Regions from separate parts of the Homo sapiens genome. Here region 2 is linked to region 1. Evidence: fine-mapped expression QTL. Tissue or cell type: whole blood. Region 1 holds a variant in brackets; the other region holds the start of a gene. All regions are shown on one strand. Distances are from middle to middle.

Region 1 (2,682 bases):
TTCAGTAAAATATTAGCAAATCAAATCCAATAATGTCAGAAAAGAATTATACACCATAACCAAGTGGGATTTATCCCAGGTATGCAAGACTAGTTCAACATTTGAATATTAATTAATATAATCTATCACATCAGTAATTGTGCCACTGCACTCCAGCCTGGGCAACAGAGCAAGACTCCGTCTCAAAAAAAAAAAAAAAAAAAAAAGAAAAAACTCTCAGCAAGCTAGGAATAAAGGGAAACTTCCTTAACTTAAATAAGAACATCTATAGGCCGGGCACAGTGGCTCATGCCTGTAATCCTAGCACTTTGGGAGGTTGAGGCGTAGGATTACTTGAGGTCAGGAGTTTGAGATCAGCCTGGCTAACATGGTGAAACCCTGTCTCTACTAAAAATACAAAAATTAGCCAGGCATGGTGGGGGGCAATTCCAGCTACTCGGGAGGCTGAGGTAGGAGACTTGCTTGAACCCTGGAGGCGGAGTTTGTAGTGAACCAAATGTGCCACTGCACTCCAGCCTGGGCAACAGAGTGAGACTCAATCTCAAAAATTAAATAAATAAATAAATAAATAAATAAATAAATAAATAAATAAGTAAATAAAAGAACATCTCTAAAAACCCCCCAACCAGCATCATACTGAGTGGTGAAAAACTTGAAACTTTCCTGCTAAGATCAGGAATGAGGCAAGGCTGTCCGCTCTCACCACTGTTTTTCAACATTGTACCAGAAGTCCTAGCTAATGCAACAAGACAAGAAGAGGAGATAAAAGCTATGCAGATTGGGAAGGAAGAAATATAAATGCCTTTGTTTGCAGATGACATGATTGTCTATGTAGAAAATCCAAAAGAAGCAACAACAGCAAAAACCTCCTGGAACTAATAAGTGATTACAGCAATGTTTCAGGATGCAAGGTTAAAAACAAAAGCCAATCACTTTCCTAAGTAGCAGCAATGAACAAGTAAATTTTTTTTTTTTTTTGAGACAGGGACTTGATCTGTCACTCAGCTGGAGTGCAGTGGCATGAATGTGGACCACTGCAACCTTTACCTCCTGGCTCAAGTCATCCTCCTGCCTCAGCCTCCTGAGTAGCTGGGTCTGTAGGCACATGCCACCATGCATGGCTAATGTTTTAATTTTTTGTAGAGATGGGGTCTCACCGTGTTGCTCAGACTGGTCTCAGACTCCTGGGCTCATGAACCACTGCCTGTAATCCCAGCCCTTTGGAAAGCTAAGGCAGGAGAATCACATTGTCACCTAGCCCACAAATGGAATTTGAAATTAAAAACACATTACCATTTACATTAGCATCTCAAAAATGAAATCCTTAGGTGTAAATCTAGCAAAGCATGTACAAGATCTACATGAGATCTGGGTGCAGTGCTTCATGCCTGTAATCCCAGCACTTTGGGAGGCTAAGGTGGGCGGATCACCTGAGGTCAGGAGTTCGAGACCAGCCTGGCCAACATGGAGGAACCCCATCTCTACTAAAAAATACAAAAACTAGCTGGGTGTGGTGGTAGGCACCTGTAATCCCAGCTACTTGGAGGCCGAGGCAGGAGAATCACTTGAACCTGGGAGGCAGAGGTTACAGT[G/T]AGCCGAGATCAAGCCACTGCACTCCAGTGTGGTGTGGGCCACAGAGCGAGATTCCATCTCAAAAAAAAAAAAAAAAAAGAAAGATCTACATGAGAAAAGCTACAGAACTCTGATGAAAGAAATCAAAGAAGTATGATAGGTAGATAGATATTCCATGTTCATAGATAGGAAAACTCTGCTGCAAGCCACACTGGTGCCCTAGGAACATACTTCATCCTTCAACTGAATAAGGCAGCACTGAATTCCCCAAATACACATCCCAAAGTCATAATCAAGGAAGTCAGGAAGAGTCTTTTGGTGGGCATGAGCATCATAGTCAGGTTCTCAGACACCAGACTGGTTTCCTCTGAGGGTTTGTTATCAGAATTCCTGCTCACAGGCCACTGTCCTGGCCAGGCTGCACCTTCCTCTCTTTGCATCCTGGCAGCAGCCACATCAGTGGGTGCAAGAGGCTCATGTGACCCCATGTAACCTGCCCCTTGGATGTGTCGGCCATCACAGGTCTCAGGTGCCTTTTGTCTTTCTAAAGCAGAACTGAAATTTCACCTGGGCAGTCCGCTTTAGAGACCACAGAACTTTCATTTCCTTTTTATTCTAGGGAGAAAGTACTGAACACTATTATCTCACCAAGAGAAAGTGGGTACTGGGTGAGTAGAGGCTGGGTGGGGCTTGGTTCACACCTGTGGTTCCTAACCCAGCAAATCACTGAAATCACCTAGAGGAACTTATTATGATGCAGACTCCTAGTCTCTGCCTCAGACCTGCTCTGGGATAGGCGTAGAGGGCAGGGGTCTGTAATTTTTTAAGTGCCCACCGAATGATTCTGATGACCCTGTAGACTTGGGAACCACTGGGGTAGAGAAATAAGGCCACTTGCTCCTTTCTGCTCAAGGGTATTCATGTTTTCGTGCTTCCTTATTTTTGATGACATTTCCGTCTCAATGCTAACTCCTATAATGTTCAAACATACCTTTATTATGTCATATGATATCATATACATTTCCATATTTATTTCCTTGACCAGTTGAGCTCCTCAAGTGTGAAAGGTGTTATTCACCTTTGTTTCCTGCACTCAGGGTTACCACATAC
Region 2 (2,682 bases), 490 kb before region 1:
TATCCGATGGGAATTCCAGGCCAGGTGGGAGGAAAGGGTAGTGCATTGGCACCAAGTAACGTTTCTGGCTGGGTCTTGCCCATCCCCTTGTTGGGTGGCCAGGAGCGCTCAGCCTCCAGAGGCAGGAATGCTGACTGTGTTATTGTGAAATCATTTGCATATTGTGAAGTGCTTTGCATAAGATGGAGCGCTTTTGCATACAGGGAGGGGGGCATTTTAGAAGTCCTAGGGCAGGATCCCTGAGTAGCTTTTCTTTGCCAAGAAACTAACCCAGGGATTCCATTTTGGAACTCAGGGAGGGAACAGAACGTCCTGGCAGTTGTATGGGCCCGGTGGGGTGAGATGGACAGAAAGCTTCAGAAGACAAGCTGGGCCACCAGGGAGAAGTTGGCGGTCTAAGGAAGGCCAACAGTGCAACATGAAGTGGGACAGGCACCAGAGGCAGCCCTGAGAGCTGAGTGTGCTCTCAAGAGCCCCAGCAGAGGGGAAAGTGACAGAGTAAATGGTTGGAGCTGCCATGGGAGGCTGATGAGGGTCAGAGACTTAAGAGACCTGTACTCAGTCGCTATCTCTGCCCAAGTGAGTACCCACATGCCCCTTCCTGAATCTTCTCCTGTACTGGCTGATTTCCAGAGAAGAATACAAACTCGAAACGCCAAGCCAGACTCCCACTGCTGTTCAGGACCTAGACGTGAGAAGTGGTATCACATACTCTGGCTTCAGGACACCCAGGTTTGAATCCTGGCTCTGCCATCTGTGCCACTGTGTGACCCTGGGCTAACAGTACCCACCACAATGGGATAATATGAGGATTCAGTGAGATAGTGCGAGTAAAGTGAATAGCACATAGTAGGTGGTCAGTAAATTGCGGTTATAAGAACTGCTATCCAGTGTTTGCTGCCTTAGTCTAACCAAAGAGGTCAGGTCTAGCTTCCTCCAGGTGAGGGAAGCACAGAGCCCTCGCCTCCCAGGTTTGGAGTTCCCATCAGCAGGGTCCAGCCACCATGCATTGGACCCCAAAGGGTTACAAGCCCTGGAGACAGTGGCCTGAGGTTCCCAGTGAAAAACCAAAGCATAAAAATAATTCGATGAGTAAGAATAAAATTCCCTCTTCTGAGGTTCCCGGGGCCAGGCCCCTCCCTGCGGCAGGCACTTCCCCTTTCCCTTGCTCATGGAGGAGCCAGGCCGGGCTGACTCAGAGCAGGAGCGCACAGTAGTCCTCCCAGCCCGACCTGGGCGGCGTGGTCTGGCGGCCGGGCGCGCCCCCGTGCGGCCACGGGCAGACTGCGGCCCTGGACGGGAAGCGGCGGCCAGATCCGCAAGCCCCGCAGCCTGGTCGATCGCGGTCCCCGCAGAGCCGCCGCTTCCGTCCCTGCCCAGCCTGGCTGAGCGCGGTGCGTGTGGCTCTCTCACTTCCGACCGACCCTCCCCTCCGGCCCGCAGCCCTGCCCAAACGGAAGTGCGCCCTCTACCCGGGTCCCCCACCGCCGCGAGGCGGAAGCGCCCTCCCGCCGCCACTCCCCCCGACCCCGCGGCACGCGGCGCCTCGGGTTCCGGACAGGCCCCTTGTGACGTGGCCGCGCGCCGGGGGCGGCCCCGGGCCGGGGGCCGGGCGGCCGGGCGGCCGGGCGGGGCAGAGCCTGGGCGGGGCGCGGCACCGCAGCTGGATGGCTGGGGCCGCCCGGATCGCCGCCGCCGCCGCCGCACGGTGAGTGCCAGCAGGACCCTCGGGGCCCGCGCCCCGGGCGTGATGGACCCGGCCGATCCCTCGCCCCGTCCGACTGGTCCTCATCAGACCTGGGCCGGCTCCCAGGACCCGGGAGTCAGGCTCGCCCGCTTCGGCCTCCTCTCCCCCATCGCTCCGCGCCCCACGCCCCATCCCTCCCTCGCTGTCCTCTCCGCGTCCCACCCGCCTCTCTCTAGCTCTCTCACTCTCTACTTTCCTCTCCCCTTGGACTCTCCGTGTATTCCCTCCCGCTAGCCTGTGGTCCCCTCACCTCTGCGTGACCGCCTCGTCCTGGCCCAGTCTTGCCTGTGGTCCCCAGTGGAGCCCCGCTGGCTTCATCAGTGCCCCTGATTAGTTAAGGCCTGGAGGTCCTAGACATGGGCATCTCTGCCACCACCCAGAGGCAGCTGCTTTCTTCCCCTCCCATCTCCATCAGAAGGTGAGGAAACTGAGGCAGGGACATCACCAGCTCAAGGTCACAGCCAGCCTGAGGCAGAGCAGACCACATTTAAACCTCATGCCCGAGTTTCCAGATGGAACTTCTCGCTTGGTTGACTCACGTCCACATCCTGTGATCGGCCGGCTGGGCACATTCCTGCTGCAGGGAGCCCCAGGCCTTCCCTGGCACAGGCAGGGCCTCTGCGCCTCCTCATGCCGGGTACATCCACCTGCACTTTCAGGCTTATCTCGTCCTCACAGCTGAGGCAGGTGATATTGATCCCTGTCCTGCAGATGAGGGCACTGAGGCTCAGAGGGGGGGCTTCAGAGATTTGCCCAGAGTTAGACAGCTCAAAGTGCAGCATAGAATTCACCGTGGGGGCTCTAAAGCCTGCGCTATACAAGAGAGAGGCATCCCCTGGCTAAAGGCTCCTTCCTCATCAGCCCCATCTCCTGTTGCCCTCAGTGCCCTGGGGACATTGGTCTCATGTCCTAGGAAGAAGCGTGGATGGTCTTGC

Evidence for each region. PIP is the estimated chance that this variant, and not a neighbour inherited with it, causes the effect.
Region 2: it holds the start of SLC39A13, and the variant in region 1 is fine-mapped to the expression of SLC39A13 in whole blood (TOPMed, PIP above 0.99).

Annotation. Positions count from the first base shown.
Region 1 is chr11:47,897,849-47,900,530 of GRCh38, forward strand. No RefSeq gene overlaps it. Among named protein-coding and RNA genes, the nearest start is that of NUP160, 51 kb to the left of the region's middle. The variant G/T (reference allele first, on the strand shown) is at 1,593.
Region 2 is chr11:47,406,955-47,409,636 of GRCh38, forward strand. It overlaps SLC39A13 (solute carrier family 39 member 13), which reads left to right and starts at 1,636. Exons shown (of 10, transcript NM_001128225.3): 1 at 1,636-1,708. It overlaps SLC39A13-AS1 (SLC39A13 antisense RNA 1), which reads right to left and starts at 2,328. Exons shown (of 4, transcript NR_182308.1): 1 at 1,998-2,328. RefSeq lists enhancers at 918-1,740, 2,029-2,682 and a silencer at 1,149-1,938.